2 separate regions of the Homo sapiens genome follow, and region 2 is linked to region 1. Evidence: fine-mapped expression QTL. A gene starts in region 1. The other region holds a variant in brackets. All regions are shown on one strand. Distances are from middle to middle.

The links. PIP is the estimated chance that this variant, and not a neighbour inherited with it, causes the effect.
Region 2: its variant is fine-mapped to the expression of SLC15A4 in monocytes after R848 (Quach 2016, PIP 0.95). The same link has a PIP of 0.9 or more in monocytes after Pam3CSK4.

The regions. Positions count from the first base shown.
Region 1 is chr12:128,813,912-128,830,042 of GRCh38, reverse strand. It overlaps SLC15A4 (solute carrier family 15 member 4), which reads left to right and starts at 6,085. Exons shown (of 8, transcript NM_145648.4): 1 at 6,085-6,645; 2 at 14,973-15,268. The coding sequence starts at 6,100. It overlaps LOC124903083 (a long non-coding RNA gene), which reads right to left and starts at 6,099. Exons shown (of 2, transcript XR_007063602.1): 1 at 4,153-6,099; 2 at 597-2,374. RefSeq lists enhancers at 203-272, 6,175-6,334, 7,815-7,894, 7,955-8,074, 11,290-11,399 and 1 more.
Region 2 is chr12:128,787,360-128,803,490 of GRCh38, reverse strand. It overlaps SLC15A4 (solute carrier family 15 member 4), which reads left to right. Exons shown (of 8, transcript NM_145648.4): 6 at 2,482-2,637; 7 at 4,074-4,232; 8 at 9,135-10,297. The coding sequence ends at 9,295. Among named protein-coding and RNA genes, the nearest start is that of SLC15A4, 29 kb to the left of the region's middle. RefSeq lists enhancers at 5,693-5,987, 5,981-6,210, 5,128-6,327, 8,208-8,347, 11,412-11,571 and 5 more. The variant A/G (reference allele first, on the strand shown) is at 7,931.

The sequences.
Region 1 (16,131 bases):
GTCAGTAAGGAGAGGCAACTGTCTGGCGGTGAGGAGTGAGCAACTCAACAGAGATGTGAAACTACGGCAGAAATGTCATGAAACAGCCAGAGGAGTCAGGCAGTCCCCTGAATGTCCTGTCTGTGACGGTTTCTCAGTTCACTGCCTTAAATCACACCCACTCGAGCTCTGCACTGGGTGAGGCTCAGGAGACAAAGTGGTACCAGAGAAGGGAGAACCCTGTGTTTCCAAGTCTAGTCCACACCACAGGCACCTTTGCAAAGAGTGTCCTTGCCCCTTTTCTAGAGGGCCCTTGAGGTGAAGAGCCAATAGACAAAAATGTTATTTTGGAAGACACGGTTACCTATCCCTTAGATGCCTACTGTATGGGTTGGGTCATTTATTAATTTTAGCTGCAAAGGAGAGACTCATAGGATCACTTTTTGGGGCAGAAGTATATTGCGAGCATATCCAATAAAGTGGGAGGAATCACCTTACATCAATTCTTTAGCTATACCATCACTGGGGGCTCAGTACAGGGGCTGCAAACCCAATCATTACAGAAGCCCAGCAGAAAACTCATGGGTCAGGCATGAGAAAAAAATCAGGCTGGCCTCTCTTGTTCCTTAATTTTTTTATTTTTTATTTTTTGAGACGGAGTCTCACCCTGTCGCCCATGCTGAATGCAGTGGTGCGATCTCGGCTCTCTGCAACCTCTGCCTCCTGGGTTCAAGCAATTCTCCTGCCCTAGCCTTCCAGTTCTTTTATTTTTTCCATTTTTGATAGAATTATGATAGGTGGCTTGGGGCCACAAGTAATACAAATAACAGAAAACCCAACACAGTGGCTTAAACAATGTTAAGACTTATTATCTCACTTCTCCCTGAGTCTCCTGTGCCATCCCCCAAGTCAGTCTCATCCTAAGCTGGTTCATCTCATGGTTGTCAATAGCCATCAGGAGCTATTAGAGCTGCAGGTTTCCTAACTCACATCCAGTTTGGGAGCATGTGCCTCGCCCACAGTCAGCCAATAAGTGGCCTTGCCTCTAGTCTGACTGGGTCAACTTACCTCATTTGTCCACTGCTGGGTCAGTAACCGCAGGCACCAGGGAAATTTCGTGTCCTGAAAGGTTAGAGTCTGCGTTCCTGAACTGGTCACCATGAAGAGGCATGAGACTAGTACTGGTGTGGGCTAGTTCTATCTGGGAACAAGGATGAAGTCAGGTTCTCCTGAGCTACATGGGAAGCTGGTGGGGACAGGGGTGGGTTAAGGAAGACAAATATGTGAAGAGAATCAGGATTGTTTGGAAAAAGAAAGAGTATGGATGTTGGCTAATTAGTCAATCATATCCATTACATTTTAGTACGGAATGGAGTTGCTGGCCGGGCGTGGTGGCTCTAGCCTGTAATCCCAGCACTTTGGGAAGCCAAGGCAGGCAGATCACCTGACTTCAGGAGTTCAACACCAGCCTGGCCAACATGGTAAAACCCCACCTCTATAAAAAATATAAAAATTAGCTGGGTATGATGGCAGATGCCTGTAATCCCAGCTACTTGGGGGGCTGAGGCGGGAGAAGCACTTGAACCTGGGAGGTGGAGGTAATGGTGAGCCGAGATGGCACTATCGCACTTTAGCCTGGGCAACAGAGCAAGACTCCGTCTCAAAAAAAAAAAAAAAAAAAAAAAGAATGGGGTTGCTGATAGAAGTTACTGCAATGATGGTGTGAAATAGACTATGCTGTCCAATACGGTAGCCACTAGCCACAAACCACTTGCAATATGGCTAGTGTAACTGAGGAACAGAATTTTTCATTTTATTTAATTTTAACTAGTTTCAATAGCCACACATAGCTAGTGGCTCCTGCGCTGGACTATGCAGATATGGAGAATTTTCTCTATGATAACAAAAATAAGACAATAGTGAGTGGGGAGGGTTTAGGAAAGCTAGAAAGTGTCTGCCATCTAAAGACAGTGGCTGCTGCTGAGTGTCAGCAGATTGTGGCTACAGGGGGAAGCAAATGTGTTTCCATTACCTGTTGCTACATAATAAACTGCCCCAGAATTTAGTGGCTTAAAAGAACAACCATGTTATTTGTTTACAATTCTGCTATCTGGGTTGAGGCTCAGCTGTGTGGTTCTTCTGCTGGTCTTCACATGGCTGCATTCAGTAGGCAGGTCATCTGGAATGCTGAGAATCCCCTCTCCACATAGTTGCAGACTCCTCCTCAACATATGATGGAAGGCAGGTGGACGTCTAATATGATGGCTCCGGACACCCCAGTCATGAAAGTGGAAGGTGTCAGACTTTAAGCCTGTGCCCAGACCAGGCCCAGAGACACTTTTGATGTATTCTCTTGGTCAAAACAGGTCACAGGACAGGCCCTGTGGTGTGATCTCTGAGGAATACATAAAGGCTTGAATACTATGGGGCATGGTTCAAAGTGATGGGATCATACTAATGTAACAGGTAATCACAAGTCCAGCATTGCCAGAGCTCACATTTATTTTCCCCAAATAGCAAGGCATCCAAATTTATATGTGAAACCTTTCAAACTGTAACTATTAGTTCACTTTCTTTTGGTACCAGCTTTATGGAGACATATTCGCATACCATATAATTCACTTATATAAACTGTAGAATTCAGTGGTTTTTTAGTACATTCACAGAGATGTGCACCAATCTTCCCCTCCCCTCCCCCAGTATCAGGAAACTGTACTAATCTGCATTGTCTGTATGGATTTGCCTATTGCCTATTCTGGCCATTGCATATAAATGTGATCTTGCCAGATGTGGTCTTGGCTCACTTTTTTGTTTTTTTAAACTTAGCTTTAGTTTTCTCAAATGAGGCAATGCAATCGGATTAGTTTACTATCATTCAAAAATGGCAGAGTGTATTGAGCACTGTTTGGACACTGGGTTATCACATGATTCAAATCATTTGCTTTGCTTTCATTCCATGTTTAATGTTAATTTTACTCTAGACTTTGCCTGAGCGTCAAACCTATCAGTCTTAGAAAAAATACTCAAAGATTCTGTCTCCTCTACCAACTGCAAAGTGGAAGCAGCACTGGACTCATAATTAGATATAAGCCTTTCATTGAAGTCTGAGTTCTATTGCTTTCTTTTTTATTTTTTATTTTGAGACAGTTTCGCTCTATCACCCAGGCTGGAGTGCAGTGGCGTGATCTCGGCTCACTGCAACTCCACCTCCCAGGCTCAAGCGATTCTCCTGCCTGAGCCTCTTGAGTAGCTGGGATTACAGGTGCGCAACACTACCGCCTGGCTAATTTTTGTAATTTTAGTAGAGATGGGGTTTCACCATGTTGGCCCGGCTGGTCTTTAACTCCTGACTTCAAGTGATCTGCCTGCCTTGGCCTCCCAAAGTGCTGAGATTACAGGCATGAGCCACTGTGCCACTGCACTCCAGCCTGGGTTACAAGAGCGAAACTCCATCTCAAAAAGAAAAAAAAAAAATGGCACATATGTGTGTGTGTGTGTCTATATGTACATGTTCAAGGACATATATTAGTATCCAATAATAAGTTAAAATACTAATATATGCCCTTGAACATGTATAGACACATATATATACACATGTATACATGCACACATATACACACACTTATATACACACATATATACATATATACACACAGATATACATATGTGTATACACACACATATATGAGAACATAAGGTGACTTGCATCATTTACATTCAACAAATGGTCAGTCATTCACTCATCCAGTTCAATCTAATACCTATTTATCATTGGCAAGTGCTGTGCCAGCCTCTAGAACTACAATCGTGGTTAAAACAAAGATCCCGGCCATCCCAGCTTTGAAGACAGGCATTCAATAGTTGCACAAAATAAGTATAAATTATAACCGGTGCTGTGGGAAAAAAGTATAGGGAGTTCCAAGGCCATAAAAACGGGGAGCTAACCTAGTGTGGCAGGGTTAGGAAAGTGATATTTGAGCTGACAGCTGGAAATGACAAGCATCAACAGACAGGTGGCAAAGGTCCAATTCGGGCATTCAATTATTCTCTCCTTAGACATTGATTAAATATATATTGCCTGCTGTGTGGCAGCACTGTGCTGACCATCAGTCTATCTGTCGGACATTTAAAAAAGTTTTTTAAAAAGAGAATGCATGCAACTTCAAGACTTACTGGCAGGATTACTTCTCCAGATGACCTACTGGCAAGCCAACTTCCCAGCTACTGGCTCCACCCTCATCTTAGCTGGAGGGAATGATGAAGGAAGAGGAGGTGGTCTTACACTAATTGAATCATTGCAGCAGCTGTGGATCACGATTCCTTTCTTTCTTGCCTTTTTTTTTTTTTTTTTTTGAGACAGGGTCTCACTATGTCACCCAGGCTGGAGTGCAGTGATGCCCTCACTGCTGAATGCAGCCTCTACCTCCCGGGCTCAAGCAATCCTCTTGCCTCAGCCTCCCAAAGTGCTGAGATTATAGGCGTGAGCCATCATCCCAGGCCGGGGTCTCAATTTCTTTTTTTTTTGTCTTTTTTTTTTTTTTTGAGACGAAGTCTCACTCTGTCACCAGGCCGGAATGCAGTGGCACAATCTCGGCTCACTGCAACCTCTGCCTCCCTGGTTCAAGCGATTCTCCTGCCTCAGCCTCCTGAGTAGCTGGGACTACAGGCGCCTGCCACCACGCCCAGCTAATTTTTGTATTTTTAGTAGAGACGGGGTTTCACCATGTTGGCCAGGATGGTATCGATCTCTTGACCTCGTGATCCGTCCGCCTCGGCCTCCCAAAGTGCTGGGATTGTAGACGTGAGCCACCATCCCAGGCCGGGGTCTCAATTTCTGAAGCCATGCTGAGGGCCATTTTTGGGCGGCACTCTTTCACTCCACTATGTGCCAGGCGCTGTCCCAGAGGCAGGGGGCACAGTGAGGAACAAAACACAAGAGAATCCTGCCATCAGGAAGCTTACACCTGTTAACACATGCAGGTTGGGGAGATAAACGAATAAATTAAAAAATGTAACAGGTAATAAGGAGAAAAGAGTAACATGATGGAATGGGATACTCGGGCCTTGGACAGGCTAGTGAAAAAAATGTTTCTCTGAAGTCAACACTTCGGTGGAAGGTTGAAGGATGAGAAGCCAGCCATGCAACCATAGATGGTGTAGGGGCAGTCTCTGGGAAAGCCTGAAACAGGCTGGAGCTTGCCTTGTTCTAAGCCAGTGAGTCTCAATGGGGGCGTATTTGCCCCCAGGAGTCCTTCGGCAAAGTCTAGAAGACATTTTCGGTTGTTAACCTGAGGTGCTAGGGGGTGGAACTGGCCCCTAGTGGATAGCAGAGGCCAAAGCTGCTGCTGAACATCGTGCAACGCACAGGACAGTCCCGTCGCTCAAAGTGCCAACGATGCACGGGTTGAGAAACCGGGTCCTCTCCAGGACTGAAGCCCAGGGCAGGGAGCACGGGGGCAGCCTGAGCAAACCCGCCTGGAGAGCAGCCGCCGTCTCAGTGTGAGTTTTGGCTGCCTACTGGGCCCCACCGAAGCCCGAAGAGGGCCAGGCTCCGGCTTCTTTGTTTAAACTCCCTTAGTCCGACTGCCTGCAGTGGCTCATGCACGTAATTCCAACACTATGGGAGGCTGAGACGTGAGGAACGCTTGATGCCAGGAGTTCGAGACCAACCTGAGCAACAAAGCGAGACCCCATTTCAAAAAACTGTTTAAAAATTAGCCACAGGCAGCGGCGAGCGCCTGCGGTCCCAGCTACCCGGGAGGCTGAGGTGGGAGGGCCGCTTGATCCTGGGAAGCTGAGGCTGCAGTGAGGCGTAACCGCATGACTGCGCTCCAGCCTGGGCGAGAGAGGGAAACCCTGTCTCAAAAAGGCAAACAAAGGCTCTCGGCCGCCAAGCTGCGGAATCCCAAGCTCCCCAAGACACGCAGTGATCCAGAATACCGGCCACCTCCTCGCCTAGTGCCCGGGGCGGGGCCGGAAGTTCCGGCGAGTGGGGCGTTGAGCAGCGGCGAGCCCGCCCAATAGGGACATCTCAGGCCCGGCAGTCTCGCGAGAAGGGCGGCGGCCCTGGGTTCTGGGACAGGTGACCCGGCGGCGGGGCGAGGCAGCTGGCGGCGTCGCATGGAGGGCTCTGGGGGCGGTGCGGGCGAGCGGGCGCCGCTGCTGGGCGCGCGGCGGGCGGCGGCGGCCGCGGCGGCGGCTGGGGCGTTCGCGGGCCGGCGCGCGGCGTGCGGGGCCGTGCTGCTGACGGAGCTGCTGGAGCGCGCCGCTTTCTACGGCATCACGTCCAACCTGGTGCTATTCCTGAACGGGGCGCCGTTCTGCTGGGAGGGCGCGCAGGCCAGCGAGGCGCTGCTGCTCTTCATGGGCCTCACCTACCTGGGCTCGCCGTTCGGAGGCTGGCTGGCCGACGCGCGGCTGGGCCGGGCGCGCGCCATCCTGCTGAGCCTGGCGCTCTACCTGCTGGGCATGCTGGCCTTCCCGCTGCTGGCCGCGCCCGCCACGCGAGCCGCGCTCTGCGGTTCCGCGCGCCTGCTCAACTGCACGGCGCCTGGTCCCGACGCCGCCGCCCGCTGCTGCTCACCGGCCACCTTCGCGGGGCTGGTGCTGGTGGGCCTGGGCGTGGCCACCGTCAAGGCCAACATCACGCCCTTCGGCGCCGACCAGGTGAGCCGCGCCCCCGCGCGCTGTCCCTGTCCCTGTCCAGCCCCTGCCCAGCCCCAGCCTCTTCCCCTGCCCCAGTCCCTGCCTCTGACCGCGGAGGGAGCCCCTTGCCCCGGGGGGCTTCTGTCTAGTGCCGAGGAATCCCGCCAGCAGGTGGGCCAAGACTGGAGGTACCGGTGTGATGGGTGCTGGAAGGGGTTTGCCTGGGGCGGGGTGAGGTCTACACACACAGTGATGGCCACAGTGGCTTTAAAGAAAAGAGAGGCCGGGCGCGGTGGCTCACGCCTGTAATTCCAGCACTTTGGGAGGCCGAGGCGGGAGGATCTCTTGAGCCCAGGACTTTGAGACCAGGTTGGGCAACACAGTGAGACCTCATCTCTACCAAAATTTAAAAATTTGCCCTCCGTGGAGGCGCACACCTGTAGTCCTAGCAGAGAAAGGAGGATTCCTTGAGCCTACGAGTTTCGGAGGCTGCAGTGAGCTAGGGTCACACCAGTGCACTCTAGCTTGGGTAACAGAGTGAGACCCCACCTCAAAAAAATAAATAAATAAAATTTAAAAAATACGCTGAGCGCAGTGGCTCACGCCTGTAATCCCAACACTTTGGGAGGCCGAGGTGGGTGGATCACCTAAGGTCAGGAGTTCGAGACCAGCCTGACCAGCCTGGCTAAAAATACAAAAATTAGCCGAGCGTGGTGGCGGGCACCTGTTCTCTCAGCTAGTCGGGAGGCTGAGGCAGGAGAATCGCTTGCACCCGGGAGGCAGAGGTGCGATGAGCCGAGATCGCGCCACTCCACTCCTCCAGCCTGAGCGACAGAGCGAGACTCTGTCTCCAAATAAAAATAAATAAATAAATAAAAAATAAATGAACGGGACCCTTCTATGTTCAGGCCCTGTAAGTTCAGACCAGAAGGCTAGGAAAGAGCAGTTGTTTGAGGAGCTTTCCAGACATGGGGATTCGCAGGTGCAGGGCCCTGGGCCAGGAAGCTGAGGGAAGGGGAAGCCCCCGTTGTTGCCTTAGCTTCCTTTACAAAGAAGTGGGAAAACACTCATATTGCGTCTTCGTGGCTTTAAAGGAGTTACGGGCTAGGTTGGGTCGGAAAGCTCAGATGAAAATGAGTTTGAATCAAGTTAGCATCAAGCTGCTCCCCTGCAACTGTAACTGCCAAGAAGTGAGGGAGGAACCACTGCAGCTCTTCAGGAGGGGCAAGGACGTGGCCACCAAGTATTATATGCAGAATAGGCCGCCTTTAAGAGCAATAGCAAAGTCAGATCGTTTCAGAAAATATAAAAAAAAGTGGGAAGTGAGGTGGAAGGCTGGGGCCGGATCATGTGAGGAGTGTTAAAGCGTTGGGGATACAGTCGAGAGCTTTACTGGGTTCCAGCAGGGAGTGATTTGTGCAGAGCAGGCACTACAGCTGGGGTAGCAGGTCAGGTCTGCTTCTTATTTTCTGAGGATTCACAAGCTAAGAATGGTTCTTAATATTTTCTTTCTTTCTTTTTTTTTTTTTTTTTTGAGGCGGAGTCTCGCTCTGTTGCCAGGTTGGAGTGCAGTGGCGCGATCTCAGCTCACTGCAACCTTCACCTCCTGAGTTCAAGCGATTCTCCTGCCTCGGCCTCCTGAGTAGTTGAGACTACACGTGCACGCCACTGTGCCCAGCTAACTTTTGTATTTCTAGTAGAGACGGGGTTTCACCGTGTTGGCCAGGATGGTCTTGATCTCTTGACCTTGTGATCTGCCTGCCTCGGCCTCCCAAAGTGCTGGGGTTACAGGCATGAGCCACGGCGCCCAGCTAGTTCTTACATTTTTAAGTGGTCGGAAACGGGATCATTTGTGACCAGTGAAAATTTTATGAAAATCAAATTTCAATCTCCATAAATAAAGCGTTATTGGAACATAGCCCCACCTGTTTCTGCAACACAGCCACTACACTGGGGCTGCTTTCACTAAGCAGTGGCAGAATTGAGTAACTGTGATGGAGACGAGATGTCTCATAGAACTCAAAATGTGAACTGCCTGCCCCTTCACAGAAGTGTGCGGATGCTTGTAGAGAATGGGTTGTGTAGGAAGTGGTGACATTAGGGACATGAGGTGGGAGTCTCTCCTAACTAGAGTGGAGGCAGTGGAGGTGGGTGAAGTGGATGGATGGAGTTCAGCTATGGAAGTAGAATGGGCAGGAAGTACTGGCAGGTTGTCTCCCTGTTTGTGTTCCTATGTAGGAATACCTGAGGCTCAGTCATCTATAATGGAAAGATGTTTCTTTGGTTTAGGGTTCTGCAGGCTGTACAAGAAGCAGGGCGCCAGCATCTGCACTGCTGAGGGCCTTGTGAATGGGAGCCAGCTGTGTAGAGATCACATGCACTAGAGGAAGTGAGAGAGGGGAGGGAGGTGCCAGGCTTGTAAACGACCTCTCTCATAGGAGAGTTCACTCCTGTGACAGCCCCAAGCCTTTCTTCAGGGATCCGTCCCCATGACCCAAACACTAGGCCCCACGAGAAGCACTGGGGATCACATTTCTTCATGAGGTTTGGAGGGTCAGATATGGAAACCATGGCATGTGAGCAGTAGGGAAGGCGACTCTTAGGCTTTTGCCTAAGTATCTGTGAGTGCCTGTTTTTTAGGAACATTTACTGAGAGCTTACTGTGCACCAGGCACAGTGCTTGCTAAGTACCTAAGTACAGTATCTGGTTAGTCCACATGACACGTATGCTACATGTCTACATGTCTACACGACTACTTAGTCTACATGACACGTACGGTGCCCATTTTACTGATGAGGAAACTGAGGCTTGAGAGGTTTAATCATTGGCCCAAAGTTACACAGCTTGTATGTGACTGAGCCAGGATTCAAAAGCCTGTCCTTTGAATGTGAGCTTTCACTCTGCCTGTGTAAGGCTATCCGTTACAGTCAGGAGACACCTTAGAATGACGTTAGAAATGATAGTTTCTAATGTACTGAATTGGAACTGGGTTTTTTGTACAGTGGCGTATGCTTTACATATGTGACGAAATCTGAACCTCACAGGAGTCTTAGATCCACTTTACTGATGAGGAAACAGGCACAAAAACAGATCACTTTCTTACTGCCTGTAGGTAGTGAGTGGTCAAGCTGGACTTCTATCCCAGCTCTGGTTCTTTTTTAGCTACCACACTAAGATGGGCCCAGTGTGCGTGCGTTCCGTAATGGTTCTGCAGGGCTGGATCTCAAGGCCCAGGCTCTTGGCCTTGGGGTGCCATTGGCTCATGAAGGAACGGGGCTGGTAGCACAGTCAGCCTCTATCTTTTAAAGACTTGGCCACCCCACACAGGTGTACTGGAAAGCTTCTATTATGCCTCTTACTTGTGCCTTTCCCACGTGATCTTATTTAAGCCTCGCCACAGTTGCTGGTGTGTGTGCTGCAGTTAAGCCTGTTGTCCAGGGAACAGAGGCCTAGAGGGTTAGCTCCCAAGGCTGCACAGCAGGTGCCTAGGGGAGCTGGTTTGGGGCCCTGGCAGCCTGACTTAAAAGCTGGTGCTCTCCAGGATATAACAGGCGAGTAATTGATACTTCTTAAAATGAGGAGGAAATGGTGCTCGGTTATCTCAGATGAATCTGACAGAATATGCGCTCTTTCATCCATAATTAAATGTGGATGTTGAAAGGAGATGTGCCTTCTTCCGAAAGATAGCTGGCCTGATCTCTTCCGACGTAATGCTGTCATGTTAAAAGAGGACCTTGTGGATGAAAGGCTACTCGGGAGACCTGGCCGCCCCCTGCAGCGCGTGCTGAGTGATTGGATCCCAGCTGCTTTCATGGCCGTTCTTCTTGGATGCTTGGGATAGTTTGTAGACCGCCTATTAGCTAATAATGGACCAATGTTGCCTTTCTTAGGTGTGGTAATTTCACTGCCGTTAAAAGAATGTCCTTATTTCCAGGAGATTCATGATGAAATTTTGGGGGTGAAATTGGTTGCTGGAGCTTATTTGTATGTAGATCACCCAGAAGTATTTTTTTTTAAGACCAAGTCTTATTCTCTTGTCCAGGCTGGGGTGCAGCGGTATGATCTCAGCTCACTGCAACCTCTGCCTCCTGGTTCAAGCTATTTTCCTGCCTCAGCCTCCTGAGTAGCTGGGACTACAGGTGTGAGCCACCACGCCTGGCTAATTTTTGTATTTTTAATAGAGACGGGGTTTCACCATGTTGGCCAGGTTGGTCTCGAACTCCTGACCTCAGGTGATCCACCTGCCTCGGCCTCCCAAAGTTCTGGGATTACAGGCGTGAGCCACCGCGCTCGGCCAGTATTTTTTATGTATAGAAAAAAGTGCTGAGGCTCCAAGTGAAGGGTAGAGAGGTGTGCATTTTGCAATTCAACTTTTCTATACATTTGGAATTTTTTTAAATGAAAGATAAGAAAATGTTCACTGATGAATGTATAAACTAAATATAGTATATCCATACAATGGCATATTTTTCAGCCATTAAAAAAGAAATGAAGTACTGATGAGCCTTGAAAACATTCGGCTGCATGAAGGAAGCCAGACACATAAGGCCCCAGTTGTGTGATTCCATTGATGTGGAATGCCCGGAAGAGGCGAGTCCACAGAGACTGGAAGTAGATTAAGGGTTGCCACGGGCCAGGAGAGGGGCGTGGGACTGACTTAAAGGGAACAGGAGTTCCTGTTGGTGTGATGAGAATGTGGACTTGGATGGCAGTGATGGCTGTACATCTCTGAATATACTAGACACTACTGAATTGTACACTTTTGAAGGGTGAATTTTATGGTATGTGAATCATAGTGAAAAAACATTTGAAGGGAAAAGTACCCTTATGCCAGGGTGCTTGCCCGTGACCAGGTGGCAGGTCCCCCTCCAGGTGCGGCTGCTTCATGGCAGGAGGCCTGGCTGGGGACCCTGAGGTGTGCAGGCCTGAAGTACACTCTGTTGTGCCCCAGGCGAGGGTTAATTTGTCCTGGTTTGGTCCTTTTCATTTAGAGGAAACCTGTTTGTATTTTTAAGGTGCTTTTTATGGTTCTTTGTCACTTACCTCTTCATCTCCCAGGTAGAGCCTCTGGGAAACATTCTGATAGGAGAGACAATGGGGTGAGGCTGCATAGCTTTGAGAAGGAGGCCTAGTTGGCTTCTGAAAGAGGATGTGTGAGCTGTGAGTCCAAGGGAGACGTATGTTCGTGTAAATCATGTCAGGCCGTATCTTCCCCCAGTGTTTCACCTTTTTCAAAGGTCACAATCGTTCTTGGTGGATGGATTATTTGAAATAGTGACCTGAAAGACGAAAATCTTATGTTACAGATGAAAAGAGCAAATGATGCATTTTTTTTTTTTCTAGAGGAAAAACTGACACCCCATTTTAAGGAATTCTTCTGTCAGCCAACTGTTTGGTATGCTGTACACAATTCTATTCTTTTAGCTTTTCTTCTCCAAATTGATTTTGGTGGTATCTTTTGGCCAGTCATGTGAAAACCTTGTTTACCCTTGGTAGGGCACGTAGCTGCAGCTCACACAGTGATGTCATGCAAACGATGGGCAGGAGGTTGTGGCCTGCTCGCCAGGGGCTGGGAAGCATGTGATGTCCCTTCACAGCAGCCAGGTTCCCTTGGTACAGAAATGCCTGCTGTGTGGTTATTTAGGGCTTAGTAATTTTGGCTTATAAAGTAATTTTGATGGATTACTCTTGGAGTTGGAATAAATTGACCACCACAATTACACAGGAAATGAGGATGAATGGCATTTTAAGGTTAGGATTTTCCCAGAGTAATCAAATGCTGATATTTTCATGCTTCATCTGAAGAGGACATAAGTCTGAGACTGTGGGAAGATATGTGCAGTGTCACTGTGGGTAACGGGAAGGCCCGAGTGAGACCGTGGGAAGGTGTGTGCAGTGTCACTGTGGGTAATGGGAAGGTCCGAGTACATTTCAGTTAGGAAATCATTTGTGCCTCTATTAAGTTTATATACTATGTTTACTGGCCTCTTTTATGCTTGTCAAAAAATTACTTTTTGTTTGTTATTTTTTCGCACTTCTAGTTTTGTTTTCTCAGTAACCATTTCTCTGCTCACATTTTTCATTTTTCTTCCTGGTCCATGTCTAGTATAGCATGAGAATTGGTGTCCACTGTTGAGCAATATTTAAATGCATTGTGTCCTAGTGAAGAAGTGTCTTAGATGTCTGTGAAGTTCTCACCTCAAACTCTTTATTCAGTAGAGATGTCTGCATTTGGTCTAGGACCTCTGTTCAGTATTGTAATAGATAAGAGAAAAGTTTAAACTCTTGAGAATAAGTGATTTTCTTTTAAATTTAGATTTTTCGTTTGAAGTGGTGTTACTATATATAATTAATTACCTGCCACCATAGTGGCCATGCTTAATCATTTGGACTTCAAACAAATCTCTTTTTGAGGAGCACACAATTTTTTTTCTTTTGCTCTATTTCCTTTAGAGAGGAACACACAATTTTAACTATAAATTTTACTCCTCTGATTTAATCTTTAAAAAATAGAGTTTAAAATACCATATCAAATATATGACTGCTAAAAAGATGCATGTGCTTATTACATACCATATCTTTTTTTTTCTTTTGAGACAGGGCCTCTGTCGCTTAGGCAGGAGTGCAGTGGTGCCATCACAGCTCACTGCCACCTCCTCCCCAGTTCAAGGGATCCTCCCACCTCAGTCTCGCAGGTAGCTGGGACTGTAGGCGCACACCACCGCACCTGGCTGATGTTTGTAATTTTTTGTAGAGATGGGGGTCTGTCTGTGTTCCCAGGCTGCTCTCAAACTCCTAGACCCAAGCGGTCTGCCTGCCCTGGCTTCCCAAAGTGCTGGGATTCCAGACCTGAGCCACCATGCCCAACCGTAATTGGTTGTTTTGGCCCCATTGAGAATGTGTTATTCAGTAGAGCAGATTGTTCTATGGATCCAGAAACTAGATCTATTATTAGAATAAGAATTTTCTAACTCTTTCATAACCTGTGACTTAAGAATGAGACAGTAGAAGTTTTTAAGACAGCAAGAGAGTCTTTTTATGAGATCCAGTATCAGCCTCTCATAAGTTTGTTAAAAATAAATTTATGAAATGAAACTCACTAGAAATGTCTCTGTCTAGTACAGGGTTCATTTGCACAGTATCTTATTTAGACGTAAAAATCCAGGTGGGCAGAGAAGGCTTCTGGTGTGTCTGCCCCCAAATGACCTGTTCCCACCGCTTGGGCTCCATTGAAGTAGCCTCGTGAACTCCATAAGCCTAGATGTTGCGTTATTACCTCAGTGCTTTTGTTTGAGTCCAGGAAGTCAGTGATTTTTGAGCCTTTTGGAAATCCCACCCTTATCAGAATTTCTCCGATTCCATTGATAGCCTGTCTAATCTAAAAATAGCATGTGGTTTTATCTTTAGTCTATAATTTCCTCTTTGCTTCAAGTTTACTGAGATCTCTGATTCTCAGGAGACCAGATACAATTGGTGTGGGTGGTGACTTGGCCTCACTGAACAAATGTCTCTCTTTGGGGCCTAAGCATATTTGTGGGGTGCCTCATGGTACTTGCATGTAGCTCAGTAAGGCATGGAGCTTTATAACATTGGTTCTAAAACTTACCTGTGAGTAGAAGTCACCTGGGAAGTTGCTTGAAATGCAGATTCCTGGGCCTGGGCCCCAGAGACCGTGATTCAGTAGGTCTGGAGCGTGGGTCCTGTGACTGTGTTTGTTTTTTGTTTGTTTGTTTGTTTGAGATGGAGTTTCACTCTTGTCAACCAGGTACAGTGGCACAGTCTCGGTTCACTGCAACCTCCATGTCCTGGATTCAAGCGATTCTCCTGCCTCAGCCTCCCAAGTAGCTGGGATTACAGGTGCCCACCACCATGCCTGGCTAATTTTTGTATTTTTAGTAGAGACGGTGTTTCACCATGTTGGCCAGGCTGGTCTCGAACTCCATACCTCAAGTGATCCACACGCCTCAGCCTCCCAAAGTGCTAGGATTATAGGCGTGAGCCACCATGCCCAGCGGACTCTGTTTTTAAAGAGCATTCCAGGTAATTCCAAGGCAAGTGGTTCAGGTACTTAGAAAATTCTACAGCAGAATATACTTGGAAAAACTCTCTAGCATTTGTTGGAATTTAGTGTAATTAAGTGAAACCTACCTAGCAACTGTAGTAATTAAAAGCGTGGGGTGTGCTTTTTGTTGAGATCCGTGAATGTTTCTGTAAACACAATTTTGATTGTGTTGCGCTTCTTAAAGGTTGTGATGACAACGGTAATTTTAACCACTTGACCGTATATGGTTTTCATCCTTGAAGACTGTCATATATTTTCAAGTGTCTTTCCTCCCTGTTATTTTAGGTTAAAGATCGAGGTCCGGAAGCCACTAGGAGATTTTTTAATTGGTTTTATTGGAGCATTAACCTGGGAGCGATCCTGTCGTTAGGTGGCATTGCCTATATTCAGCAGAACGTCAGCTTTGTCACTGGTTATGCGATCCCCACTGTCTGCGTCGGCCTTGCTTTTGTGGTCTTCCTCTGTGGCCAGAGCGTTTTCATCACCAAGCCTCCTGATGGCAGTGCCTTCACCGACATGTTCAAGATACTGACGTATTCCTGCTGTTCCCAGAAGCGAAGTGGAGAGCGCCAGAGTAATGGGTAAGCACTTAGTTCTCATCTTGGGCTGTTTGAAAGGACTTTATCGATCTCTTTATTAACATCCTAGCTTCGGTTTGTTGTGTGCTTATTGTGTGCTGGGCCTGGGCTGAGTGGTTTACATGTCTTCTCTCCTTTAACACTGCATTTCCCCAAGGAGGCGGGTGCGGTCTTATTATCCCATCTTAAAGACAGGCCAGTGGCCTGATTCCAGAGCTCATGCTTTAACCCCACGTTGCACTTTCTCTCACTGCTAGTGTAGACGGAAGCTCCTTTGGTGCCAGATTATAAAGGTAGAAATTTGTGGAGGACATCGAGGAGACAGAAGACATGCTTTATACATGTTTCTTTTTATTTTAAAAAGCTTTGAAATACATTTGAATGAAAAACTAAGCAGTTGCTTATGCTGTCAGTACCTGTCTCTGCTCTTTAAAAAGTAAGCCACTGCCTCTTACCTAAAGGTCAGCATGGGCTCCATCATACAGCGGTCAGGTCCATCATACGGCGGTCAGGTCCATCATACAGCGGTCAGGTCCATCATACGGCGGTCAGGTCCATCATACGGCGGTCAGGTCCATCATACGGCGGTCAGGTCTGTAACTCTTGACAGGAAGGTGCAGTAGCAGAATGGCGAGATGCACTGAGGGTAACCAGATGATCTCATGGGACTTACCCAGTGTTAGCACCAAAGTCCCATGAACTGAGGTGTTAAAACAGAAAGGCCTGTGTCCTCAGAACCCCTCCAAGTCACTGGCCAACTATGACTCATGTTTGGTGATGTTGGATGCCAGTTAATAAAGTCCAGAACTTAAGCCCAAGAAGAGAGCTCAGAAGTGTTTGTGTTACTCTTTATTGAGGAATAATTT
Region 2 (16,131 bases), 27 kb after region 1:
GTCTCATTTTCCTCATCTTCAAATGAGCTTGGGTTATTTCTCCCCCCAGCTTACTGTGAATAATAAATGAGGTGCTGTCTGTGAATCCATCAACAAAAGCGGCTCATCACACAAGGAACAATTCATACATGGCACCTATTGGTTATTTTGGTTTTTGATTCTTTTTCTCTCTTCTTGGTATTTTTGTTGACACCTCTTCCCTTTATGATTGTTTGTCTGATACATCCTGGCCTGTCCTCTCCTTTATTTACAATCTTTGGGTTATATTATGCTTTAGTTCTGTGTATTAACCGTAATACTCAGTTTTGTTTATTTTTTGAACTGATACAAGTGGATGACTTTTATCTGAAGGATTTGGCTCATTTATCCTGACTGCTGTGTTGATTATCCAGCGTCGCATCCCATGCTTGTTTTTACTGGGTGCCCGCTTGCCATGTCACTGTCACTCAGCCTGAACCCTGCTGCTTTTCGGCCTGTCCCAGCCTCTCCAGGGCTCTCAGTTGTTCACAGGCAGGGTCATTTTCCCCATTGGCTTTGCCTCTCCGCCTCGCTCGTGACTGGGGGCACCCGTCCCGATCCTGGTTTCCGCAGTGTTGGCTGTGTGTGCGCCTTTGCCGCTGCTCATCTCTCTGCCAACAGCCTCACCAATAATCAGGCCTATTTATTTTCTCATTTTCTCTTCTCCTAATTCTTGATCTCATCATTTGTGTCTCTCTTAAGCCAACGTCCCCTTAATTTCTTTGTTACCTTTTTCATCCTTAGTCTTCAGAGTCTGTGTTTTCTTGAATAATAAGACAAGTTCTCTGGTAGAACTATGCCAGTAGCAATAGTAGTATCTTTCCCATTCAGGTTATAAAATCTACTTATTGTCCTCCGCATGAGTAACCTTCCCTTGTCCCGCCCCCTGCAGACACTTTGGTGTCATCCTTAGGCTCTCCTCCTCTCCTGTGAAGGAGAAAAGTGGTATTCAGCTTTCGTGTTTATTTCCAAAATAGACCTGAATTTCTGCTTGAGTTGCATAGGTTCTGTTCCCATTCAAGGAGTGGGGACCAGTGTAGTCAGCTATGGTCCCAGGGGAGCAGGTGGGAGCTGAGGACCTTGGGTGTCTAGGGGAAGCCATTGTCACACAGTTCATTCTTCGTGTTTGAAGGCGCTGATGCCAGGGCTAGGGGTGCAGTGCTATGGTTGCTGTCAGCTGCCCTGTCGGGAGGAAGGCTGTCATTTGGGGACAGTCCCTATTGTCACTACCAGCCTTGCCTGATTAAGATGCCCTCAGATGCCCTTTCCAGAACAACTAAGGGCTCTAAATAGTTTGCTGTCCTTGCCTGGGTCTGCGTTTATGTTTCTCCCGTGGAGGGCGGAGTGGAAGGATTGGGTTTCCCTTGACACTCTTCCAGGGTGGGGCTGCAGGTTTTCTGATGGAAGTAAGCTGTGGGTTGGCTCGAAGGTCTCTCTCTACTTTGATCCTGGAGAATGTTTTCACTTTGCTTGGCATTTCAGTTGAGATTTGAGGTGGAAATTCCAGAGTTTGTGTTCTCATCGCCCTATGGATCATATCCTGGTCCTTTCTCATGCTCAGGTTTTAGAAGGAACATTTTTAATATTTTCATTCCATTGCCCTCTGACCAGACCTTTCTTCATACTCATGTTTTAAAATAAACATATTTTACATACGCTTTAAATATTAGGGCCTGTGACCTAATTTGCAATAAGAATTCTTTATAAAATAAAACTTGGTGGTATCTTTAACCTAAGGACTTGGACCTGCGAATAGATGCTTTTACACTTTATTTCCAGTGGCTGATTTTTGTTTATAGAGTAGGAGCTGCTGCCCTTGCTTGTTTTTCTCATGTCTTTCTGTTACACTTGATAGGTGACCAGTAACTTAGCCTGCACCTGCAGTGAGATCTCAATGCTGCTGAGAGCACAGGTTGATTTGTGAAGTCAGCTTACTTTGTTGCAAAGATTAAGCCTACCCTATGCAGGGAAACCAACATCATCATCATCATTATTATCATCATTTGTTGTTATAATAATAAATCAGTAGATCACCTTCGATCCATCACTATGATTGGAAGAACATCTCAGTATTACCTGCTGTTGGGTAAAATAGCACTACTGTTAATTCTACAGTAGGACTTTTTAACTTTCTCCTACTCCCCTTTGTAAGAGACAAACGAGGTATGGGTGAGCAATCCAGATATTTGAGGATTAAATGAAACATGTTGAACATCTGATTTTATATAAGATGCTGTAAAAAGCCGAAGTGAAATAGGTGTGCTATGCCATGACCTCCACTCAGCCTGCTTAGGAGGCTGAAGGCTGGGGGCCTATTAGTCCTGGGGGAAGCTGTGATTAGACGTGGTCCTTTCACGCATCAGAATCACGTTTGCTACGAAGTCTCGTAGCCAACATCAGATTTTTAGATTAACTGTAAATGTTAATAAATGAATATTACACTAACCTACTTTTGAATTCTAGGAATTTTGGAGAGTAAAAGGCTGAACCTTGTTAAAGAGAAAACCATTAATCAGACCATCGGCAACGTCGTCTACCATGCTGCCGATCTGTCGCTGTGGTGGCAGGTGCCGCAGTACTTGCTGATTGGGATCAGCGAGATCTTTGCAAGTATCGCAGGTGAGGACCTTTAGTGCCGGAGGTGTCTGAGTCCAGGCACAAGCGTGAGCGCTCGGGCATTCTGACTGTGCTGTTGGAATATGTTGAGACAAGGATAGCACAGCACTTCTGTAGTTTTTGGCAGTGTGTGGTTTAGAATATGAATCGCTAGGTAAACACACCAGTGCTGAGGTTCTCCATTCTTTGTGTAAAAACAGTATCGCAAAATATTTTCATGAAAGTTTGTTAACTACCTTGTAAGTGCCACAGGACAGAGAAGAAGAAAGCAATCGTGGTTGGATAGTTCCCAGCGGAGCCCTCGGCCATGCTGCCGTGGTGGCTGGGCTGAGCTCACAGCTCTCAGTGCGCTTCGTTTAGATGTACGTAAAGAAGCAGATCTAATTTTTAGAAACGTGTTCTCACAGGCCTCCCTTTTCCTATTAGTGAGATCCTGCAGTGGTTGAACAAGTGTATTCTGGGCAGATCTGTCCGGCTGCTGAGAGTGAGAGAGAAGAGAAGATGAGTGATATGCAGAGGTGGATGGATGTGTGGGTAGTAGTCAGTGGTGGTTTTCACTGTAGAAAACTCATCCAGAATTGGCTAATGAATTTGTAAAGGGAATAAATCACAACGGAATGGACTTCTATTTAGAATACACTACAAATCTCCGTGTCTAGTTATAAAAATCTAAATTTATAGATGGGCCTGCCAAAATAGTTTTGAAGTCTATTGCCCTTGTCACGGTGGCTCATACCTGTAACCCCAGCACTTTAGGAATCCGAGGCGGGTGGATCACCTGAGGTCAGGAGTTCGAGACCAGCCTGGCCAACATGGTGAATCCCTGTCTCTACTAAAAATACAAAAAATTAGCCAGGCATGGTGGCACGCACCTGTAATCCCAGCTACTCGGGAGGCTGAGGCAGGAGAATCGCTTGAACCAGGGAGGCGGAAGTTGCGGTGAGCCAAGATCCTGCCATTGCACTCCAGCCTGGGCAACAAGAGCAAAACTCCGTCTCAACAAAAAAAAGATAAAGTATATTGCCTCTGAAATAGAATCCTTATGTAGATTTCCCAGTTTAGTGTGTGTACTTTGTTTTCAAACTCCCATTCCTTGACAATATAGGAAAATTTTTTCTCTAATCTCTTTAAGGAACACAAAAGTCTAAGAGCCAACAAATCACATTACCTTTAAGCTTGAGAGCAAGGAGTTTAACTTTCTGCTCATTGAATTTATTAGGAATTATCCTAATGGCTAGGAGAATGAACAGTTGGCCCATAGCCATTGATTCTTGGTCGCTAGTAAGCATCGTCCTCCTAATAGAAAAGAGGTTGTGCCTGTCTGCAGGACTCAGTCCCTAGGAGACCCCACGCTTCCTCTGCTATATTAGGTGAAAGCTTTGATCCCATGTGTTAAAGTGCCCCTTTCACAAAAACGACCCTCCCTTTTCTTTCCTCAGGCCTGGAATTTGCATACTCAGCTGCCCCCAAGTCCATGCAGAGTGCCATAATGGGCTTGTTCTTTTTCTTCTCTGGCGTCGGGTCGTTCGTGGGTTCTGGACTGCTGGCACTGGTGTCTATCAAAGCCATCGGATGGATGAGCAGTCACACAGACTTTGGTAAGAGCCAGCATCCTGTCCCTTTTGAAAATAGCCAGTGAGGGGGAGGCGCAGGCACTCAGGAGATGGCTGAGTGAGCGGAGGTGTTTTCACGTGGATGGCCTGTCCCGAGCTGCCTGTCCACCGCTCCTTCCACAGCACTGCTCTGTGCTGCTTGCATCACTGTGTTTCCTTACATCATGAACGGTTTTCAGGAGACAAGCAGGCCTCTCTTCTCATCCCAGGGGCCAAGCCTGCCCTGGCCACAGCCCAGCGAGCAGCTGCTGCAGCCACCGCTCCTTACGGGGACGTCCTTGACAGACAAGCACCTTCTCCACGCCCGTCCAGCTCAGTCTTCGTGAGGCAGCTGAATCTGTACCCCAAGCTTCCCTTTCTTTAACTTGGTGGTGTACTTTCGTTTTCTTTTCCTAACAGCACCTTTTCTGATACGAAAAAGACAAGATAGATAGTAAGTTACTTTTAAAAATAAACATATTACTTGTGATCAATCATAATGGGTTTTTACAATTAATACCAGTAGGTGGCATCTTGAGTGTTGAACAGAACCACTCATAAAAGCTGAGTTTTGCTTTCTCCAGGTTTACGATGCCTTTAAATGGACCCAGCAAGCGAAGGTTTCTTCTTTCTTTTCCTTTGTAAAAATATTTTATCTACAGAAACAACCTTGTTACTTTTTCTTGTATAATCATGTGGCATTTGCTCTGGTCCGGTAGTACTTAGCCACTTTTAGGTTACAAATCCCCTTGAGAATCTGGTGAACGTTTAGGGACTTTTCTGCAGAAATTGCAGAATTCCCAGAGCCCTTCCATGAGTATAGGCCTGTGGAGTCCTAATGTAAAGCCCAGAACTCCAAGCCACCAATGTCCCATGGACACTTGTCACTGATGTTTTCTGGCTGTGGGTGCCACCTCCATGGCCAGCTCAGGGCTGCTTGCTCTGAGGAGGACATGTGGATTTGGGGCTGGTGTTTCATTCCCACCTTCTCCTGAAGATGAACAGCCCGAGGAATAAGATCCTCTTGTGGTACATGGGACAGACTTCCTTCAAAGAAAGACCAAAGTCCATAGTTCTGAAGACGAAGATTCTGGTTCTTGGTTTTTGTTTTATCTTTAAATGTGTCATAAAGGATTGGCTGGTCATTCTCGTTGCTTTCTAGTCATTTAATCCTCATTCTTAATTTAATTTCACATCTCAGAGTTGACCTTTCATTCATCATTTCTGTCTGACAGGTTGTTTGTGGACTTCCCCTGCATTGGTGCTCTCAGGGCGTGTGTGCTGGGGATGGGCCAGGATCTGTCTGTTGTTTTCAAGAATGGGAAATGTTTCATGAAGGAGGCGTGTTTGCCAGCAGCCCCCAGGCTGTGCCCCCTGGCTGCATGGCAGCCTCCTTGGTTCACACCAGTAAGGAGAGTTGGAGCTCATCTGTCGAGCAGCCCTTGGCGTCCTGGGTAGAGAAATAAAGGCTGTGACATGGGAAATCCACAGGAAGCCCGCTCCTCAGAGAGAGTTCTCCCTGAATTTGTGTGGCCTTGGAAGGAGCAGCAGCTCTCAGGCCAGGTTCCGGGGGTGTCTGTGCCACCCTTATCCCTGGCCCTACCTCACCATCTCGTGACCGACACAGGAAATAGCTTTCTGTAAAGTCACAGCACTGTGAAGGGAGAGTCCCCAGAGTTTTGTTACATTGTGTTTTTCTTACCGACCTCCCAGCAGGCTCCTTTTATTAGTGTTATTTAAGCTGGGGAGAACGTGCATACCATAGTAAAGGTCTCTAATCTTAAGCACAGCTTGCTGTGTTTGCAGTCTGGATCTCAGTGGAGGAACTTTTGGAAGCCCTCCTTGCCTCTCTCCTTAGTTTACTGCCCCCCTCAGAAGGTAAACCTGTTCTATTCCAGCGTTGGTCCCCACAGGTTACCCTCGCCTGTCCTGTGCTGGGCTGTGGCTGTCTCCTTTCACTTAGCACTTCTGTCTGTGAGCATCTCCCCTGTACTTCTGAGTACTGCTCCTTCGTACGAGCCGTCACGAGGCATTTATCCATGCTGTTGTCGGTGGGTGCCCAGATGTTGGCAGTGTGGGGCTGTTGTGAATACCTGCCCTGCCTGTGAGCCTGGGGGGCGGGTGCGCTCATTCCTTGGGGACCCAAGAGTCTGTCTTGTCAAATGTCAAAACCCTAGTGTTTGCCATCTTCCTGTGTAATTATCCTTCTGTCTGTGAAGAGGCCCAGGAATGCACGGCAGGTTTTCTCCCAGGCGACTTAGGCGTTTCCGAATACCCTGTGTAATGCCACCCTGAGACAGACCCTGACGAGGCGTGGTGTGTCTGCCTGCGGGCTTGGACCGCACCTCCACTCCCGCAGGGCCGCGCAGCCTTCAGTTCATGTGGCCTCAGCCTTCAGTTCACGTGGCCTGCCAGCTTTAGCTCGGGAAGTTTTCAGTGACTGGTACATTTGGGGAGACTCGTATTTCAAAATAGGCACATAAAATGATGTCGTTTATATTTTGATGACAACCTCGTCTCAGTAGCGTCAAATGCCAGTGTTGGGACAGCAGTGACAGCTAGTGCCAGGCTCCAGGAAGCTGGGGTTTGCATTTCCACTGAGTGCCCAGGACAGAGCCTGGTAGGTCGTAAGGGTTGAACGAATAGTGTAAAACATCTGTTGAAAAAATAAAGCTTTAGTCTGGTAGAATTCAGGGTATTAGCAGCTGTCTTTCTAAATCAGTAGACACAGGAAATGATCTTCTTTAATTGGTGTGAATGAGCACTCTTTAAAAATGTGTGAGATCTCACCATACAGATGTGTGGGTTTTTTTTTTTTTTTTTTTTTTTTTTTTTGAGATGGAGTTTCACGTTTGTTGCCCGGGCTGGAGTGCAGTGGTACCATCTTGGCTCACTGCAGCCTTTCACCTCCCGGGTTCAAGTGACAATTCTCTGGCCTCAGCCTCCCAAGCAGCTGAGATTACAGGCGCCAGCCACCACGCCTGGCTAATTATTTGTATTTTTAGTAGAGACGGGGTTTCATCGTGTTGGCCAGGCTGATTCTGAATTCCTGACCTCAGTTGATCACCCACCTTGGCCTCCCAAAGTGCTGGGATTACAGTCATAAGCCACTGCGCCTGGCCCAGACGTGTATTATATTGTGTTTATTTGATAAATGCACTGTTGAACATGCAGTATATGTTCAGATAGAAAAAGGAAGTGCCAGAATAACCCAGCTTTAAAAAGGTCTTCAGAAGAAAGGAAGTCTCACTTTTTAAAATAAACAAATGAGAAAGTGTTTTTGAAGAGGAGCAGAAAATGGAGCAACTTGATTCCAGAGCACTCGCTCCCCTCGTGATGTTGCCGGCCACACGCACCTGCGACCTCGTGCAGAAACGTGCAGCAGTGCTTTCCAGCTGGTGGCAGGTGATGTACATGGTACGGAGACAGAGGGACGCCATGGTGGCAGGAGCAGCCGTGGTGGAGAGCACAGGGCGACACTCGGCTTGGCCTGGATGACCAGTCATGACGAGCTAAAAGTCCTGCCGTTTTCTGCTCACACGTCGTTCCCACGTCTGCACATTGAGTGGTGATGTTAGCCGGTGCTGGCTGAACTCTGTTCTCTGGCGGAGAGACTGCCAGTTTGCAGAGTGGACAGTTCCAGACCTCTGTGAAAGGGGGATCATGACCGTGGCACGTGTTGCTAGCACCCTCACCGCGTCCAG[A/G]CTCCCTCTTGAGTGCCTTTCTGAAATGCTGCTCCTCGGCGCTTTCCCCATTTTACAGATGAGGAAACTGAGCACAGAGGTCTCAGAGGCCGGATTCAAGCCTTATAGCTTGAGCTGCATGGCCCATGATCTTATCCTCTGTGCTGTCCAGCCTGCTTGGGATGCAGACGTTGCGTGTAAAGTGCCTCCATAGTGCCCGGGACTCGGTTGGGTATTCAGTGTATGCTAACTCTTTGTATTAAAGTATGCAGAGGTATCTGCTTGTGTCAGTTTGAGGATGCTAAAACCTGAACATGTTTAAGACACATTCAGAAACCAGCTCATCTCTTCCTTTGATACATTGCCCAGCTGTCGGCCCTGGTGTGTTGGGTGTGTCAGTGACCCATGCAGTGAATCCAGAATTCACGATGTTCAGGCTGTGTCATAGTGCAATCTGTGATGCTAAAAAGTGCACAGGTTCCATAGCCAAGTTACAAAGACGCTCACCTCAGGATTCGATAAAGAGATAGTCAGGCGCTCTTTTGTTATCTTCGCATCTGCCTTCCTCAACAATGCAGTTCCAGGCCAATCATAACTATAAATGGAGGAAGTTCCCCTGAAGTAGTTGAGGAGAGGAACACTGCCTCAGAAAAGGCAGGAAGGAAATAACACCAGACCGGCTAACACTTGTTTCTGGTGGCAAGAACACAGGAAGGTAATTTTTTACTTTGCCCAGCTGTTCTGGTGTGGGGGGATTAGCAGTCACAGGAGGCTGGGTTGGCAGGTTTCCCCTTGCTCCTGATTTGCAGCCTTGTCGTGCGGCCTTAGGCACACTCTCCGTCGACACTGTCCCCTTCACCACCGCATGTGTGTCTGCAGGCCACGCAGGGATTTTCCTGAGTACTGGGGAGCTACCTTTTCTAGTTTCCTCAGGGAACCTCCTCCTTTTACCTTACAGAAGAGAGGGATGGGCTGCTAGGGGCAGGTGGGGGGCTGCAGACAGCCCACCTCCAGAGCCCCCGGTGGCGATGTATCTGACTTCAGGGAGCTTCTTCAGTGGTTTTGAAAGCAAGATGCTTGTGCATTTTGGACTACAGAGACAACATTTGTTACTTTTTTTATGACTCCAGTTAAACCTTAGTGGGAACCAGATTAAATAGTAAAGTCTTGAAAAAATACCTGTAGCAGCGCAGCTTACCTGCCGCTTTCCTTTTGTTTTCTCCAGGTAATATTAACGGCTGCTATTTGAACTATTACTTTTTTCTTCTGGCTGCTATTCAAGGAGCTACCCTCCTGCTTTTCCTCATTATTTCTGTGAAATATGACCATCATCGAGACCATCAGCGATCAAGAGCCAATGGCGTGCCCACCAGCAGGAGGGCCTGACCTTCCTGAGGCCATGTGCGGTTTCTGAGGCTGACATGTCAGTAACTGACTGGGGTGCACTGAGAACAGGCAAGACTTTAAATTCCCATAAAATGTCTGACTTCACTGAAACTTGCATGTTGCCTGGATTGATTTCTTCTTTCCCTCTATCCAAAGGAGCTTGGTAAGTGCCTTACTGCAGCGTGTCTCCTGGCACGCTGGGCCCTCCGGGAGGAGAGCTGCAGATTTCGAGTATGTCGCTTGTCATTCAAGGTCTCTGTGAATCCTCTAGCTGGGTTCCCTTTTTTACAGAAACTCACAAATGGAGATTGCAAAGTCTTGGGGAACTCCACGTGTTAGTTGGCATCCCAGTTTCTTAAACAAATAGTATCACCTGCTTCCCATAGCCATATCTCACTGTAAAAAAAAAATTAATAAACTGTTACTTATATTTAAGAAAGTGAGGATTTTTTTTTTTTTAAAGATAAAAGCATGGTCAGATGCTGCAAGGATTTTACATAAATGCCATATTTATGGTTTCCTTCCTGAGAACAATCTTGCTCTTGCCATGTTCTTTGATTTAGGCTGGTAGTAAACACATTTCATCTGCTGCTTCAAAAAGTACTTACTTTTTAAACCATCAACATTACTTTTCTTTCTTAAGGCAAGGCATGCATAAGAGTCATTTGAGACCATGTGTCCCATCTCAAGCCACAGAGCAACTCACGGGGTACTTCACACCTTACCTAGTCAGAGTGCTTATATATAGCTTTATTTTGGTACGATTGAGACTAAAGACTGATCATGGTTGTATGTAAGGAAAACATTCTTTTGAACAGAAATAGTGTAATTAAAAATAATTGAAAGTGTTAAATGTGAACTTGAGCTGTTTGACCAGTCACATTTTTGTATTGTTACTGTACGTGTATCTGGGGCTTCTCCGTTTGTTAATACTTTTTCTGTATTTGTTGCTGTATTTTTGGCATAACTTTATTATAAAAAGCATCTCAAATGCGAAATCCATGAGCCGGTTCTTTGCGTGGTTTGTCCTCAGTCGCTGCTGGTGTGGCGTGTGGATTCCTCCCCTGTCGTGTAGAAGGCGCAGAGCTTCCCGAGTCGGGAACTGAGGGGAGGGTGGGGAAGTGCGCTCCTGCACAGCCCTCGGATGCTCCGGCGCGTCTCCTGATTCTGCAGCCTCCTCTGCATGGAAGGGTAGTTTCAGCATTTGGAGAAGACAAAAAACAAACCAAAAAACCCTCACGTTGTTGTTCGTTGTGTAATAGAAAGTATAGAAAAACTATAGAAAAATACAAGACATTTCAACCAGTGGAAGTAGGATAGAGTGAATACAGATGACACTCATGGTATCACTGGATCTCAGAGGGGCCGGAGTTGTGAGCCCAGGTTAAAAAAAACGGGGCAGGTTTCGAAAAGCCTTGTGCTACGAAGGATACCACTTTCCGGAGACAGAACTCATGTCTTCAGGATATATCACATGTAAAAATAACCCATGGTGTCAAACAGATTTTCTTCATAAGGCCTTTGCACAAAAGGGGAAAGGCAGGTGGCGTCGGGAGAGCTCTCGGATCCTTCCTCCGGTGCGTTGTGCCCTTGATGCCCCGGGCTGTGTGAACGGTGAGTGAGTAACCACATCCATCCGCTCCGTCTGTCCCGCCAGCCCCTGCTCCTAGCTAGGTGCACCCTCGATGTTACGAGGGAAATTCTCTCCAGAAAGTCAGTTGGAGGGTTGACAGAGTCATCAGGGTACCAGCCTGTGATATTGTGATGAGATAAGAAACAGATGTGGTCTGGGCCCTAAATCCCTGGGACAGAACTCCTGCAACCCCTGTAGATAGGGCACGAGGAGAAGCCCACATTTTCATATTTGCTCTTTGACCCCTTGACCCCAGCTCCTGGCCTAGAGCTGCTAAGGCCTTTGTAATTTCCTGGGTGATGGGAGCATCTTTTGTTCTAATGAGGCCATCTGTGGTGGCTCCTGGACAGCCTCAGGAGAGGGGGTGCTTGCTCGGGGAACCAGTCTGGTGATTGGAGTGGGGGGACTTTCAGCCCTCCCCCTCCCCCACCTCCAGGAAGTTGGGGGGGTGGGGGTAGAAGGTGGAGTCGATCACCAGTGGCCAGTGGTGTGTCATCAGTCATGACTACGTAATGAAGCCTCCATAAAACCCCAGAGGCCTGGGGTTCTGAGAACTTCCTGGTTGCTGAACTCATGGGGGTTCCCCGAGGGTGGCACACCCAGCGGGCATGGGAGCTTCCCGGTCCCCTTCCCACACACCTCACCCTGCACACCTCCATCTGCCGTTCCTCTGTGCCCTTGTCACAGCCTTGATAATAAACGGGCACGCGTGAGTAAAGCGTTTCCCGAGCTCAGAGCTGCTCTGGCAAATCAGCTGAACCTGGAGAGGGAGTTCCTGCTCTGTAGTTGGTCAGAAGCGTAGGTGACAGCCCACTACTTGCGCCTGGCATCTGCCGGGGCGGGCAGCCTCGTGGGCCTGAGCCCTCAGCCCTGGGATCCTGATGCTGCCTCCAGGTGGGTGGTGGCAGGGCATATGCCAGGATATTATAGGATGCTCAGTGTCCGCCGGAGCATCGTGTGACGTGGGGAAGGAGAGCCACTTTCCCATCCTGCATCAGAAGTGTTCTGTGAGAGTAAAGACTGTTTTTTTATCAGACAACTTTTTACATTTTCTTCTGAATTTAGATAGTTGATCAGGTTCACCCTACAGCATGAAGCGGTGATTGAATAAATAAGCATGAAACATGTGCCTGCCCTGAAGACGTCGGTGTGTGTGTAACTGGCTTTTCTTGGCCTCATGAAGCAAACGTCTTCTCGCTCCATGTGAAGATGCTCAGCCAGACTTTCTTTTCGGGGAAGCTGGGCAGGACAGAGCTTTTCATTTCTCCACAGTGTCATGGGCAGATGGGGAGAAAAAGTTCTTAAGACTGACAGGGACCCACTGGGCCTGTGGTCAGTGATCCCAGGGTGAGACTGCGACCGCATGTCCTGCCTGAATTTGCGGACGGGCTGTACAAGTACAGGGTCCCTGGGGCCGGCCTCGTGCCCCCCACCCCCAGGGGCCGAGATGCTGCTTCCCGGAGGATTGGAGAGCGCACAGTACCACATCACATCACACTTCCCAACAGCCCATCATCTCAGAGTCACACCAGGCCCGTCCTGATCACTTCTGAATTCTAGGTAATAAAAAATGGATGATCCTCAATATTACCAATTATTTCACTTGGTGCAAAATCCCATCACCTGGAAAAAAAAGCACATTAAGCAGGAGCGGAATGCTGCAATAATGTGAAACTGCTGTGTGCCGCAGAGTGATACACACTGTTATTAACACGGGCCACATATGTTAATGGGGATTCTCAAACAATGAAGTCACTTGAGTAACTATTTTTAAATGTTCATTCTCACATGTTCTTCTTTTGGAAATAGGGCCTTTTAAAGGAGATAATGCCTACAAAGTGATTTGTTGGACTAGAATCTATTAAGCAAATGAAAAGTACAGAATGTAAAGGGTGAAAGAAAAAGCAGCCGAATGATGGAAAGCTGGATAGTAACAAGAAAACTCAGCATTTGCTGGTTTCCAAATGAGCTAAGCATGCTCAGGTTGTCAAAGGGCTGCATGGAGAGGAAGCCAGCCCAGTGCCAGGGACCTTGTTTTTTCTCTGTTTGACCGAATCCCAAACCAATGCATCGTGAGAGACGTGTCTTGAGACGAGATGAGCAGACACCCCCAGACGTTCAGGGACTAGGCCTGGTCACAGCCTCCCAGTGGTGAGGACGGCACAGAAACCTGTGTTCTGGTCTCTGTGCCGGGCTGTGTCTCTAGTGACATCAAAATTCAGCCACAGAACGCATAGGGAGTTGAGGAGGCCGACAGGTAGCACGGCATTTCCCAGAAACGCAGGATGAGCCCCTTGACCTCTAGGGCTTTGATGGTGGGAGTTGAAGTTGGGCAGGTCCATTGCATAACTCCCCTTACCCATCCCTAGCATCTCCCTGTTGCTTAATCAGAGCTGCTGTCAGGGCAGATTGCTGGAGGTCAGGAGTTTGGGACCAGCCTGGCCAACATGGTGAAACCCCGTCTCTATTAAAAATACAAAAAATTAGCCGGGCGTGGTGGTGCATGCCTGTAACCCCAGCTACTCAGGAGGCTGAGGCAGGAAAATCACTTGAACCTGCGAGGCGGAGATTGCAGTGAACCCAGATCGCGCCACTGCACTCCAACCTAGGTGACAGAGGGAGACTCCGTCTCAAAAAATAAATAAATAAAAACTGTATTGGTATATTAATCCTTTTCTGGAACTCTCAAGTCAATCACGAATCCCTTCTTTCAAGCCTAAAGGACTTCTCCAGACAGCTGTCCAAAAGCGGCTCTGCACGTCTGATTGCAGTGATTGGGGTTGGGAAGGATGCATTTGGAGTCACCTGCGGGTGCTCGGTGAGGGCCTGGATGTTGATGGAGTAGGGACCTGAGGTTCCCAGGCTAAGGAGGTGTCTTGGAAGCCAAGTGAAGGGAGTGTTTCCAGAGGATGGGGTGGTCCACGTGTCACAGGCTCCTGCCGGCAAGCTGAGCTCTGTGTGGGGTCCTGACAGGTTGCAGACAGCTGGAGGAGAGAGGAGACGCCCTCAAGGGACTCACAGAAAAGAGGAATGCAGGGCAAGGGAGGTTTCCACTTTTAAGAATGGAGAAGTGAAAATAAGCTTCTTCCTGAAAGTCTGGCATCGGAGTAAAGTGACTTTTTTTTTTTTTTGAGATGGAGTCTCACTCTGTCGCCCAGGCTGGAGTGAAGTGGCACGATCTTGGCTCAGTGCAACCTCTGCCTCCCGGGTTCAAGCTATTCTCCTGCCTCAGCCTCCCTAGTAGCTGGGATTACAAGTGCCCGCCACCAGGCTCAGCTAATTTTTGTATTTTTAGTAGAGATGGGGTTTCATCATGTTGGTCAGGCTGGTCTCAAACTCCTGACCTCAGGCGATCTGCCCACCTCGGCCTCCCAAAGTGTTGGGATTACAGGTGTGAGCCACTGCACCCGGCCTTTTTTTTTTTTTTTTGAGACGGAGTTTCGCTCTTGTTGCCCAGGCTGGAGTGCGATGGTGAGATCTTGGCTCACCGCAACCTCCGCCTCCTGGGTTCAAGCAATTCTCCTGCCTCAGCCTCCCGAGTAGCTGGGATTAGAGGCATGCGCCACCACCCCAGCTAATTTTGTATTTTTAGTAGAGACGGGGTTTCTCCATGTTGGTCAGGCTGGTCCTCAACTCCCGACCTCAGGTGATCTGCCCACCTCAGCCTCCCAGTGTGCTGGGATTACAGGCATGAGCCACCACGCCCGGCTTTTTTTTTTTTTTTTTTTTTGAGACAGGGTCTCTCTCTGTTTCCCAGGCCGGAGTGCAGTGGTGCAATCATGGCTGGCTGCAGCCTTAACCTCCTGGGATCAAGCAATCTTCCCACATCAGCCTCCAGAGTAGCTGGGACTACAGACACACATTACACCCAATTACTTTTTTATTTTATATTTTGTAGAGTCACGGTCTCACTATGTTGCCCAGGCTGGTTCAAATTCCTGGCCTCAAGTGATACTCCCGCCTCACCCTCCCAAAACACTGGGAATACAGGCATGAGCCACTGCACCTGGTCAGGAATTTAGTAGAGATGGGGTTTCACCACGTTGGCCAGGCTGGTCTCGAACTCCTGACCTCAAGTGATCCACTCGCCTCGGCCTCCCCAAGTGCTGGGATTAGAGGCGAGAGCCACCACACCCAGCCATGTGACTATTATTTTTGTGGGAAAGGGCTGGATTCCTGACCTAGCTCTCTGTGTTTGGTGAAGGCTGGGGTTTGGATTTAGTGAGTCAAAAGTGAGGTGTAAATGGTGCAGATGCTTTTACTGGCCCTTACACACAGCAGGATCCTGAGCCTGGCAAGAGGATGCCATTCAGGGAGAAAGAAGCCTCCAGGTCCTCACTGTTAGCAAAGCCTAAGGGGTAAACAGAGGGGGCTGTGAACTTGGAGGAGAAAAAGAGGGAGTGGAAAAAGCCATGCATCCACACGGCTCTGCAGGACTTAGGGCCAGGCAGGCCCAACCCAGCATGAATGTTCGAGGCCATGGGAGCCAGCCCTCCTGTGACATAGCCACCTCTCAGCATCAGAGAAGTAGATGGCTGCTGTACTGGGCTGACTAATAATAGCCCCAGCCTTCATGTCCATCCAGAACCTGTGACCTCATTTGGACAAAGTGTCTTTGCAGATGGAATCAAGTTAAGATGGGGCCACACTGGATTCATGTGGGGCCTAAATCCAATGTGACTGGTGTCCTTGGAGGAAGGGAATTGGGACCTCCTTAGGGGCTGTCATCCTGCCTGCTCCAGTGGCACAGAAACCAAACTTTGCTGCCTGGCAGCCAAATTCCAGGGTGTTGAAGCCACCTGCGTGAAGCCCTGGCATGTTGTCACAGGAGAAGCTCATCGTCAATCAACAATGCCTTCCTCACAAAGCTGGTAAGAATGCTAAAACTGCTCCCTCCAGGACCGGCAGTGCTAATAGCTTATAAAATTAAACTTCTTTCCTACAGATCTAGACATGAAATTTTATTCTTTATATTACTGCACAAATTTACTTCATGGGTACAGATACGGACATGAACAAAATTACCAACTTTAGAGAACTGAATTAAGAAAAGAGCCCTCCCCGCTCTGAAGTCATCCAAACTCCCCGAGCAGAGAAAACAAGCCCCAGCGGGCCACCTTATTTCCTTTTCATTTTTTGGTCTAGGACTTTAATTTTTCTACATCCTGAACACAAAAGTCGTATGTTCCTGAAGTCAGAAAAA